4 separate regions of the Homo sapiens genome follow, and all the other regions are reported to be linked to region 2. Evidence: microRNA targets listed by miRTarBase, many of them from high-throughput screens and not tested one by one. Region 2 holds a microRNA gene; each other region holds the end of a gene's coding sequence.
The links. The annotated mature microRNA hsa-miR-379-5p reads UGGUAGACUAUGGAACGUAGG and lies in region 2 at 1,108-1,128, opposite strand. An mRNA with a match to its seed (bases 2 to 7 or 8) in the 3' UTR can be bound and repressed. Matches are read on the target gene's strand: a 7mer-m8 pairs with bases 2 to 8, a 7mer-A1 pairs with bases 2 to 7 and ends in A, and an 8mer does both.

Region 1: miRTarBase lists TDRKH as a target of hsa-miR-379-5p. Seed matches in the 3' UTR shown: 7mer-A1 at 2,303-2,309.
Region 3: miRTarBase lists TMBIM6 as a target of hsa-miR-379-5p. Seed matches in the 3' UTR shown: 7mer-A1 at 764-770.
Region 4: the mRNA of SLC2A11 is a reported target of hsa-miR-379-5p. Seed matches in the 3' UTR shown: 7mer-A1 at 1,770-1,776.

Annotation. Positions count from the first base shown.
Region 1 is chr1:151,771,664-151,774,744 of GRCh38, forward strand. It overlaps TDRKH (tudor and KH domain containing), which reads right to left. Exons shown (of 13, transcript NM_001083965.2): 12 at 3,047-3,081; 13 at 1,831-2,841. The coding sequence ends at 2,789. Among named protein-coding and RNA genes, the nearest start is that of OAZ3, 6.5 kb to the left of the region's middle.
Region 2 is chr14:101,020,118-101,023,198 of GRCh38, reverse strand. It overlaps MIR379 (microRNA 379), which reads right to left and starts at 1,133; the gene lies at 1,067-1,133. It overlaps LOC124903407 (mucin-2-like), which reads right to left. Exons shown (of 5, transcript XM_047432049.1): 5 at 1-3,081. The coding sequence ends at 2,395.
Region 3 is chr12:49,762,477-49,765,557 of GRCh38, reverse strand. It overlaps TMBIM6 (transmembrane BAX inhibitor motif containing 6), which reads right to left. Exons shown (of 10, transcript NM_003217.3): 10 at 624-2,685. The coding sequence ends at 2,662. Among named protein-coding and RNA genes, the nearest start is that of TMBIM6, 22 kb to the right of the region's middle.
Region 4 is chr22:23,884,226-23,887,306 of GRCh38, reverse strand. SLC2A11 (solute carrier family 2 member 11) reads right to left here. Exons shown (of 12, transcript NM_001024939.4): 11 at 2,878-3,005; 12 at 995-2,658. The coding sequence ends at 2,458. Among named protein-coding and RNA genes, the nearest start is that of MIF, 8.6 kb to the left of the region's middle.

The sequences.
Region 1 (3,081 bases), not on the chromosome of region 2:
GGGATCTCAACGGACAGAATAGGTAACATAGAAGAGGGCATTCCAGGCAGCAGGAAAAGTACTGGGTTATACTAACAGAATGACAAAGAACCCATCAGAATGGGCTGTAAACAGGTAAGACTTAAAGGCATATTAAAGAAAAAGACTTTTATACATAGTAACAAACTGCAGGTAAGAATGAGACATTACTCATTTTCCAGGGTAGGAAGTCTTATGAATGATTTATATCAGGGAACCTCTAAAGAGTAAAGGTTCCCTACGGAACTCTGGTAGCACCAGTTCCAGGGCTGAGCATGCTTCAGCGAGTTCATTGCAGGCAACATCTGAAACATCAAATAAATGGAAGCTCCTTAAAGATTCCTCCAAGAGTACCTGAACTACTCACCAGAACTGTTCCTTCACTAGAGCCTTTCTGCTAATTGGGACTGAGATTTTTCTTTTCTTTTTTTGGAGACAGCATCTTGCTGTGTCACACAGGCTGGAGTGGAGTGGTGCAATCTTGGCTCACTCACTGCACCCTCTGCTTCCCTGGGCTCAAGCGATCCTCCCACCTCAGCCTCTCAAGTAGCTAGGACCACAGGCACACACCACCATGCCTGGCTAATTTTTTTGTATTTACGGGTTTCAGCATGGTGCCAGGCTGGTCTCGAACTCCTGAGCTCAAGCAATCTGCCCGCCTCGGCCTCCCAAAGTGTTGGGATTATAGGTGTGAGCCACCGGTGCCTGGCTAATACTGAGATTTTTCTGAGAAAATAAATTTTGAGAATTGTGGTTGTGAGAAAATATAGTTGCCATGTAGTATAGAGGTAGACGTTACTAATCCCTAAATTTAAAAAAAAGACCTGTGTAAGGCATCCTTATGTGCTAGTTTTAAATTTTCTAGTTTATCTTGCTTTATCCTTAAAAAAAATTCACTTGCCATTTTTCTACCATCCACATTACTATACATTTATATTTACTTTCAAGCACCTCAAGTACTTCAAGCCTCGCATTTGAGCCTCACAGTACTGTCAGAAAGATGCTATAAGGAAACACGTTAAAATTTTGCAAAAAGTTTACAGTGGAGATCTACTCCTTAAAGATTCCTCCAAGACTACATGAGCTACTTACCAGAGCTGCTCCTAGAATCCAGGTTTCTAGAATCTTAATCTGGGCCTTTTCTTTTGAATAGTATAGGTGGGGTCTTACTCACACAGCCTAAACCTAAATTGGTTCTGGTTCCTAGTGAATTTTTTTTTATGAGACAAGGTTGTGTGGTGGTGCAATCTGGGTTCACTGCAACCTCCGCTTCCCAGGTTCAAGTGATTCTTGTGCCTCAGCCTCCCAAATAGCTGGGATTACAGGTGCCTGCCACCACGCCCAGCTAATTTTTGTATTTTGTATTTTTGTATTTTTTTGAGACAGAGTCTCTCTCTGTCACCCAGGCTGGAGTGCAGTGGCATGATCTCAGCTCACTGCAACCTCCACCTCCCAGGTTCAAGCAATTCTCCTGCCTCAGCCTCCCACGCAGCTGGGACAACAGGTGCATGCCACCATGCCTGGCTAATTTTTTGTATTTTTAGTAGAGACAGGGTTTCACCATGTTGGCCTCAAGTAATCTGCCTGCCTTAGCCTCCCAAAGCGCTGGGATTACAGGTGTGAGCTACCGTGCCCAGCCAGTGAATGGTTATTTCTGAAGTGACTTTAGAGAAAGAATATGAATGTGTATATGGGAGGGACACTTGTTTCATAGATGTGATCCTTTCTGTGAGGCAGTTGGCAGTTTTCACCAGATTTAGGCTCACAGCCTGCTTCCACCTTGTGATTCAATCAGAATTTGGTTTTAGAAAATTTTCTTGAGAACTTTATTCAGCAAAAAAATCCTCCAAATGATTCAAACAGGACTGTATACTCTTCCTCTCTCTCCACGGGTGTATATGTGTGTATACATATAGATATTATACTAGCAATTTAGAAAATTTCCTGAGCCTCCTGTCTCCTTTCTACTTATATTTTAACTAAAGGTTACAGAGAAATAGCTGGAGCAGTTTCAAAAGCCTGTCTCCAATAACATATCAGCAATTGAGGCTGGGAGGCAGTATTCTCTTCCCACTTCCTGAGGCTTTTAAATATAATTATGCTAATTTTTGCCTTTGCCTCCTGATTCAACTGGAGTCTTTGAGTTCACCACTCAAAAGCTTTCCTTAACCAGAGTCACCTGATAAGGTGAGTCAGAAGTCTGCAGAATCACTTCCAATGACGAAAGCCTGACTGTTTCCCAGCCTCAAAAAGGATACAGCCTAGTAGTAATGTGAATCATGACTGGTAGAGGGGACTGAGCCTGACGTTGAACGGCCTGGAAGTAACACAGCAGTATTCAAACACTGGAGGGTTGGGGAGGGATCCGGAGGTGGAATGGGGGAGACACACTTGTAGCGTGGTAGTCCAATTTTTTTGTAGTCTGATGGGAGGAGAATATTAATTTGGTCCACAGCAAGCCAGACTATATGTGTAATAAAGGAAGGACTGCATGGATCCTTTATCATACACTCCTCTCCTCCATGCACCAATTCCTATGCCAAATCCTGCCAAAGACAGAAATACACAAAAAGCTTGAAAGTGCTCAATCTGAGAGCAAGTTAAGCTGCAGGAAAGCAGCTGCAGAGAAGTATATTAAGACAGGGCATGGGAAAGAGGGAATCAAAGCAAGTGCCCCACTGTCGCCCTCATTACTTTCCTGTTGCTACAGATAGATGATAGCTGCACTCACACAGCAAAGCAGATGGCTGAGCAAACTGAAGCCCAGACTTCAGAGTAAGTAGTCATCTTCAAGGTTATCATCACCAGACATGGAAGCAGCTTCTATTGAAGATAAATAAGAAGGAGAAAGTTAGACACTGCCCTATTCTAGCAGGCAATGCCAGCGAGGCTCAAAAGAAAAATGGACCTCTTGGTACTCAATGACCTGACTAGGAACCAAGCCTTCAATTAACCTCCCTACTCTGGAAAGACTGAATGAGAAAAGTTAATCTCCAAAGATGCTCTAGGGAGGAAATACTGCTTGTACCTGATAAGCTGAGGCAGGACAGGGTATGTGTTATC
Region 2 (3,081 bases):
GAGTCTCGTCTTCATGGTCGGGGGTTGACATGAATGCTCGAAGCAGTGGCTCATCCCCAAAACTGGCAACTCCTCCAGGAAGCCCTTCGAGGCCGAAAGTCCCACTGAGAAGAAGTGGACGATGATATGGATTTCATCACTCCATAAATACTGATTAAGTGCCTGCTGTGTGCCAGGCGCACTGTGCTGGGTCTGAAGGAGTGGGTAGATGGGAGGGAGGACATGGCACATGGCTAACAGAGCTGGTTAGGGGAGTGGGGAGAAAATCAGAAATACAAAATGGCCCACGTGCAACCAAAGAACATCCATCTAGTTACACTAACCAGGCCAAGGAAACAGTACTGGGCACCTGAGGCCCAGATCTTACCTATTAGTGAGCTCTAGTCTTGGGCATTAAAAAAAAAAAAAAAGTGCCCTAAGGCCATATCTGCCTCAATACCAAGGGCATTTCCAGGAGGTCCTCTTAGGTTGGATTAGATTCTGAGCAGTAACCACCATGCCATCTTCATGAACAAAGCAGGAGTTGTTTTGGTCAACCACCTCCCTAAGGACAGAACCACTGTCTCATTCCCAGACTTGGCACTGCCTCCGGAAAACCCTGAGACTGAATGTAAGATTGATCAGAGGTGGACATTGGTATAAACAGAAAACTTCAACACAGGAAAGCAACTCTTCAATGCCACACAGCGGAATGAAGGATGGACTGGTGGGTCCCCCTGAAGGTAGTATTGGCTCCACGAAGCCCTCCAAAGCTGGCAGGCTACTGGGAAGTGGTAGCCCATCTCACACAAATCCCTCCTTTCGCACAGGCCACATGGCAAATCATCTCTTCCAGAACCACGGCTGAGGCTGGAACCGGTGTCTTGAGCCCAAGTTGCATCACTTCCAGAAAACTCCCCAGAGAGTGCATTTAGTGCCCAGAAGAGCCAGGCCTTGTTGCACAAGTCAGACATCAACCATGAGCCACAGAAATTGCCGTGGAGCAGTGCTGAAGCTAAACCACGTGTTCTCTTCCCTGAAGTTGGCAACACCTCCAGGAAGCCCTCCGAGGATGGATTGGATACTGAGAGTTAGTGGACCATGTTACATAGGTCAGAAATCATAACGCCTACGTTCCATAGTCTACCATCTCTTCAGGAACCACGGAATGGTGCTGACCCCAGAACCAGGGCCTTGCCCCTGAAGTTGGCGTCACTTCCAGAAAGCTTTCTGAGGCTGGATTTGGCATTGGAAGCAGGCACATGGTGAACATAAACAACCCCTCCTCCAATGTGGGGCAGTGGCATTGATGGGGGAAGGGGTGCCTCTACCCTAAGTGGTAATTCCTCCAGGAAGGCCATGTCAACTTGGAAAGACTGCGACAAGGCAAAATGTACAATACTGACCATGCTTTGGCCATTATGTGGTCAACTATCTCTTCATCAAGATAAAGGGCAGTGTTTTGTTCTGCATGGCAAATGGGACACTCCAAGAGCACAGTTCATCATATAAAAGGGGACCCTCAACCTCTAGGTAAAAACTTCCCTAGCTCACCCAAGTTCCGATGGTCCTCGCCATGCTCTAGACCACCTTTGGAGACTCAAACCACAGAGCTGAGTGGGCAGTGCGTTCCTCCAGCTCCTGATTAACCTCTCCACCTCCTTCAGGAGGTCTTCCTTGATTTTCTCCATCCCCTTTCATGGCACAACTATCCCATGTGAATGGAATGCAAAGCAATGATTTGTTAGCCTCCAGGGAAAGGACAAGGGCAGAACCCTCAGCAGCCCTGCAGGACAGCTCGGTTGTCCTCTAAAGTCCTGAACCCCAGTGTAGACGGGGCCCTGCAACTCAGTTGTTGAAGTCCTAACTCCTTAGGAAGTCATTCAAGGCATCATGCTCCCCTGCTCCCTCCAAGTGTGAGCTAGTCTAGTCTAAGAGATTACCCTCCATACCCCGTGCATTGTCCACATGCCTTTGCTGGCACTACTCCTCCACCCAGACCCCGTGTCTGCTTACATCTCTCTGAAGCCCAACCAAATGGCAGTTCTTCCACGAGCCCGACCCCACCTCAGCCAACTCAGGCCTTTGCATCCCTGACCCTCCACAGCACCCTGCCTGCACCTCTCCTCCAGCCCACTCACATTTTCCATGTGGTCACTCGTAGAAATAAACTTGTGTTTACTGAACATCTGTGAGGTGCTGGAGCTAGACCAGTAAATAAGACACAGTCTCTGCCTTCCTGCAGCTGCTAGCGTTGTGGGGAAAACCAACATTAAAGTAGTTATTGCAGAGAATTGGTTTCAAAATGTGAGGAGGCCAAAGTGTTGTGAAGGAGCAGAGAGCATTTAACAAGAGGCTCTCGCCAATCAGGAAAACTTCTCAGAAGTTTAGATTAGAAGATAAAGGATGAGGGGACTAAGCCAAGAAGAGAGAGGACAAGAGTGGACACTGTAGGGTAAAAGCAGAGGACCAGATGGAGCATGGACTGGATGGAGCATGGGTCAGATGAACATGGTCGGGGTGGACAGTGGACTGGATGGAGTATGGACTGGATGCAGTATGAACTGGATGGAGTAGTGGTCGAGGTGGGGCGTGGATTGGATGGAGCGTGGTCTGTGTGGGGCATGAACTGGATGGAACATGGACTGGATGGGGTGTTGACTTGGGGGAGTGTGAACTACATGGGGTGTGGTCTGGATGGAGTAGTGGTCTGGATGGGGTGTGGACTGGATGCAGTGTGACTGGATGGGGTGTGGTCTGGGTGAGGTGTGGTCTGGATGGGGTATGGTCTGGATGGGGCGTGGATGGTCTGGGTGAGGTGTGGTCTGGATGGGGTATGGTCTGTATGGGGCGTGGACTGGATACAGTGTGGTCTGGATGGGGTGTGGACTGGATGGGGTGTGGACTGGATGGGGTGTGGTCTGGGTGAGGTGTGGTCTGGATGGGGTGTGGACTGGATGCAACGTGGACTGAATGGGGTGTGGTCTGGATGGAGTGTAGACTAGAAGGGGTGTGTACTGGATGGGGTGTGTACTGGATGGGGTGTGGTCTGGATGGGGTGTGGACTGGATGGGGTGTGTACTGGACAGGGTGTGGACTGGA
Region 3 (3,081 bases), not on the chromosome of region 2:
GTAATTCTCCTGCCTCAGCCTCCCAAGTAGCTGGGATTACAAGTGCCTGCCACTTTGCCTAATTTTTTTTTTTTTTTTTTTTTTTTGGTGTATTTAGTAGAGATGGGGTTTCACCATGTTGGCCAGACTGGTCTTGAACTCCTGACCTCGAGATCTGCCCACCTTGGCCTCCCAAAGTGCTGGGATTACAGGCATAAGCCACCATGCCTGGCCAACTTTTACATCTTTATTAACTAATGCACTTAGAATACAGCCGGGCAGCAGTGGGTGAACAAAAATACTTGCAGAATGAGTGGGTATCATTTGCCTTTTTTCCATTATGCATCCTCAAACTCCAAAGCTTGGCTGCACATCTGAACCAACTGCACATATCACCACAAACAACATATAGCAAAGGTGGCAGGGGGTGGAGAGGACTGGAAAAAAAACTGGCTTACATATTTGACAGAGAAAATTCTCAACATTTGTGGCATGCTGGGGCTACAGAGTGGGAGGTCTTTGTCTCTGTTCATACTTATGACACGAACTCAATCGTGTCCCACTCCCAGCCCCCAGTAGCAAACCCTGGCAGTATCACAAGCTCCATGACCAGCTGTACCCTTGAATTTAACACAAACACCAGGAAAGGTTAAGGAATTTTCTTTATTTTTTACAAATTAAGACTATGCAGATTTCATATATTTCTGAATCAAAAACACCTTTGTCTTCACAGTATGAGTTAGAATGCAGCCTGAGCTGAAAATCAAGAAACTAGAAAAGAAAGTGGTAGAGATAACTATATTAAAAATCTGTTAGGTATTTTCTTTAAAAGTAGGTGTTTTTTTTTTTTTCTTTCTTTTTTTTTTTTAATATCTTGTCATTCTTGGCACTGTTTCTAAAGAAAAACTCCATTATCCCAAGCAAAAAGCACAGAAGGTGGAGTTTGGCTTCAAGAGATGTTAACTCAAAATCTTAGGCCTAGCAGAGAATCACCAAATTTATGGAGAGTTAACAGGGGTTTAACAGGAAGGAAGTGCCTTTAGTAAGTTCTCAAGCCAGAGGCTGGAGGCAGCAGCTAAATCAGAGGACAGCATCCTCAGTGAAAGTGAGCCATTCGGGGTGGCATGTCACTCCAGGAATAAACACAACTTAGAAACAAATGATTTCGTAGGATAGCACAGTGACATGGTGCACTGTGAACCTGAGGCCACTGTGTCAAACTGTGCACTGGTTGTGAATAGGGAGAGCCAAAAATTATGTCCTACTGGTAATGAGCTTTCAATGGCTCGATCCTCTCACACTGAAGCTCTGTAGAGCAGCTCAGAGCCACAACCACTCCCAACATTGACCCTTCTGGGGGTAGCTGTCTGTGGCAGCCCACAGGAAGGAGCTGGAGATCCCCATTAGGACTGTCCACCCACACTTGAAGCCACAAAACTGCAGGGATTGGGGCTCTCACTGGTTTGGTCGCCTAACTCCCGCCTAAAAGGCCACAAATTTCTGGAAAACAGGTAACAGACCAAAAACTAAAGTGCATCAGTAAAATGAACATTTATCTACTGCCCCGAATCTCTGGCTTGACACTACCTACTGGTGTCCAGTTGGAGACAGACTAAAATGCACTGAAGGACTATTAGGATTGCTGCCTCCTAAGTTATCACAGCCTCGCTCTGTTGATGTGAATGAGGAACTGCTTGGTTGTTAAAGGAGATTTTGCTCCCTGCTGCCCCAAACAGGTCCTTATCTAGGTTTGCTCCCCACTGCCCCAAACAGGTCTGGCAGGATTGGTTACAATGATCTCCAGAGGCTCAACCATTCCCCTTCCCTATCCTTGCTTGGGACATTTAATCACAGCCACCTAGTAGAGGCCGCTCAGTAAGGGGATAACAAACTAAAAAAACAAAAACAGGGCAAGTTTAGGGGAACCCTACGATGCTGTACCTTGATACACATAATCAGCCTTTTCAAAAATGCCTGACAAGAATTAGTCTTTCCTTTGTGCTGAAGTCTTCCCACCCATGGATGGAAGCAGGCTGACTCCCTGAGGGTCAGGCAAGGGGTGGGAAAGGGAACACATTACTTTTGTGAAGGCAAAGCAGAAAGGTGTGTTTGCCAGACCAGCATGGGCAGCTCAGAGGGAGCAAAGCATCCACCAGAAGAGGCTCTCCATTTTCTTTGTAGGGCCTGACAGTTGAGATTTGAGGCTGAGTTAACAATGGGACCACTGAACTTCTTTCCAATGGAAAACTCACGGCCCAGTCCCACAGGAACTGTGCGCATACCAAACAACAATGAGGAAGGAAGGGCCGGGTGGCTCTACCAAACAGTTCAGGTCCACTGGGTGAATGAAGCCTGGTGGGAAAGCGGACTCCTGAAGTTGGCGCCCTCTGCTGGTCCCACTTCTCATCGTGGCGGGTCGACTGCCTGAGTAGAGGAAGAGGCTACAGATGGGGTTGACAAAAAAGGGAGTGAGGGGAACCCCAGGAAGATGAAGCCAAACTCCAAACTATATTCTGCTAATCAGTTTTTTGATCAAAAAATTCAAAATAGAGGAAACCACAAAGTACAAAAGCTTTTCTGATGCTTTTCATTATCACAGAACACACCACCTGTAATGTGTGCAAAAAGGAAATGAGGGGTGGAAGGAGAGGAAGTCTAATTGGGAAAGGCTGGATGGTCACTTCATTTCTTCTCTTTCTTCTTATCCTAGAAATGGAGAAAAATCACCCAATTAATTTTTTGACATTTGACATTCAAGCTAAAACTCTTGAGTGAGCATTTAGTTAGGGACTAGAAGTGAGCCAGACAATTAAAAAGAAATGAGAAATGCTTCCTTAGCTCAGCAAGAACTGAATCTTAACCACATCCTACTGGTGGTTCCCAAAGTTGCCGACAGACCGACCAAGAATAAAGGTTAAGCAGCTGTCCCCACCCCCACCCCAGGAGTGCCGAGGTGGGCTGCCTGACCACTCTAGGCTATTCACAGCCACTACAGCTCAGATCCCAACAGTGAAGGCTGCAGATGGCACTCTATCCTCAAAGAGTGAAACTAGAGGCCAAGACCACCAACCAACCATTAGGCGCGAGAAGTGCTCCACCCTG
Region 4 (3,081 bases), not on the chromosome of region 2:
CCCAGCACTTTGGGAAGCCAAGGTGGGTGGATCACTTGATGTCAGGAGTTTGAAACTTGCCTGGCCAACATGGCAAAATCCCATCTCTACCAAAAATACAAAAATTAGCAGGGCATGGTGGCTCACGCCTGTGGTCCCACCTACTTGGGGGGCTGAGGTGGGAGGATCGCTTGAGTCCAGGAGGCAGAGGTTGCAATGAGCTGAGTTCATTCCACTGCCCTCCAGCCTGGGCGACAGAGAACCCTGTCTCAACAACAACAACAAAAAAAAGTAGACAAAATATTTGAACAAATTATTCATAAAAGAAAACCCACAAATGGCCATACTGAGCACATGAAAAGATGTCAAACATTATTAGTCATTAGGGAAATACCACAATTAAATGACAAGATACCACTACACACTCACTAGAATGGCTAAATTGAAGAGACTGACAATACCAAGTGCTGATGAGGATCTGGAGTATCCAGAACTCATACATTATTAATGAGAATGTGAAACAATATAATCAACCACTTTGGAAAACAATTTTTATACAGTTAAATATACATTTATTATTAAGCCCAGCAATTCATTTACCCAAAAAGCTAGACTGACTGTTTATGTCCTCCCCAGGTTCATACCTTGAAACCTAATCCCTCATATGATGGTACTTGGAGGTAGGGCCTTTGGGCCTCCTCGGAGGTGATTAGGTCATGAGGGCAGAGCCTGCATGAATGGGATTGGTGCCCTTATAAAAGAGACCCCAGAGAGCTCCCTTGCCCCTTCTGCCATGTCTAGGAGAACACAGCAAGAAGACCGCCATCTATGAATCAAGACATGGGCCCTCAACAGACACTGAATCCACTGGCACCTTGATCTTGGACTTCCCAGCCTCCAGAACCATGAAAAATAAATTTCTGTTGTTTATAAGCCACCCAGGCTGTGGTTCTTAGTTATAGCAGCCCGACGGACTAAGACACAAAAGAAATAAAAACATATGTTTAGACAATTATTATTGTAGGAACATTCACAGCAGTTTTATTCATGATGGCCAAGAATTAGAAACAGCCAAAATGTTCACCAACAGGTAGATGGATAAATAAATCATGGTCTAACCACAGAGGGGAATACTACTCAGCAATACAAAGGAGTCTCTCCTAATACGTGCAACAACATTCATGAATCCCAAAAACTTTATCTGGAGCCAAGCCAGACACAAATGTGTACATACAGTACGGAATGACTTCAGATTCTGAAAAAAGGCAAATCTGACCAATTGAGGCAGAAAGCAGGTCAGTGGTTCCCCAGGTCTGGGACTGGGGTGGGTTACTGATAGCAAATGGGCATGTGGGTGCCTTGGGGTAGGGTAAAGGTTCCATCTTGATCACGGTGGTGTTTCCCAAGTGTATACACTCACCAAAACTATACTTAGAACTCAAAACTCGCCAAATATATACTTAAAATGGATGCAGTTGGTTATGTATAAATTATACCTCAATAAAGTTGATTAAAAACATCAATTCCTCAGAAAATTCTTTTCTGACCACTCCCCTCTCAGACGAGGTCGGGCCTCCTGGTATGCATACCCATACCCACTACAACCTGTATTTATTTTTTTTGAAACATGGTCTCTTTCTGTTGTCCAGGCTGGAGTGCAGTGGCTCAATTAGGACTCACTGCAGCCTCGACCTCCCAGGCTCAAGTGATCCTCCCATTTCAGCCTCCTGAGTAGCTGGGACCACAGGCATGTACCACCACACCCAGCTAATTTTTTTTTTTTTTTTTTTTGGTAGAAACAGGATCTTACTATGTGGCCCAGGCTGGTCTCAAACTTCTGGTCTCAAAGCAATCTTCCCATCTTGGCCTCCCAAAGTGCTGGGATTACAGGCATCAGCCACCTCACCTGGCCAACCTGTATTTTTCTTTCACTGCATTTCCTGAGTCTGTAATTATTATTATTATGTTTTAAAGAGATGAAGTCTCCCTCTGTCACCCAGTCTGGCATGCAGTGGTGTGATTGTAGCTTACTGCTACCTTGAACTCTTGGACTCAAGTGATCCTGCTGCCTCAGCCTCCTGAGTAGCTAGAGCTGTTAGCACATACCACCATGCCCAGCTAATGTTTAAAATTTTTTGTAGAGATAGGGGGTCTCACTATGTTACCTAGGCTGGTTTCAAACTCTGGCCTCAATTGATCCTCCCACCTTGGCCTCCCAAAGTGCTGGGATTACAGTCATGAGCTGCCACAACCAGCCTGTAATTATGTTGTTACTGATTTTCTGTCAGTTAATTACCTTTAGCCTGGAATACCACGCTCACCATTGATTGCTAAGCACCTGGAGCCATGTCTGCACACAAAGGGTGCTCAATAAACACTCCTTAAATGAGGAATGCAGGAGGGAGTGAGGACCAGGGCCCTGGCAGGAAGCAGAGGACAGGACAGTAGCTGGCTTTGGCTCTGGCCACCCCTTTGGGACTAGAGTTCTGTTGACTGGATAACCTCCAGGCTCCTCCACGTGGGGCCCTGGGCCCGCCTGGGGAAGTTGAGTCTGTGTAATTCCTTGGAGATCTCTTGGAAGGTCTTGCCTTTGGTCTCAGGAAGGAACAGGCCAGTGTAGATGGCCCCACAGACACAGACACCAAGGAAAGGGACATAGAGGAAGTGGGACAAGGCCTCCTGCGGATTAAAAAAGACCCCAAGACCTGGTGTGTCTCCATCAACCCCTAAACAGAAGGCCCATGACAGGTCGTGAGGAGGCATTTGCCCCCCTCTTTGCTCCCCTAAGACCCCTCCCTTTCAGTCTCAGTCTCCCTGGATGGAAGCCTCCCCCTGGGGTTCTCAGGATGACAGGGACACAGCCTAAGGCAGGGCCCCCAGCGGGAGGGGCGGGCCTACCATGATAAAGGGAAATCCCAGGCCGACCAGGATGAGCATGATCCACATGAGCGCCCCGCAGACCATGCAGGCAGCAGGCCTGGCCATCTGGTCAAACAGCTCTGTGGCCAGGATCCCCGTCACTCCGGCTAGAAGGAGGGGCAGGGACAGGGGGCTGCTGGCCAGGGTTCCCTGCCTGCCTCTCCCCGACCCCAGCCCAGACAT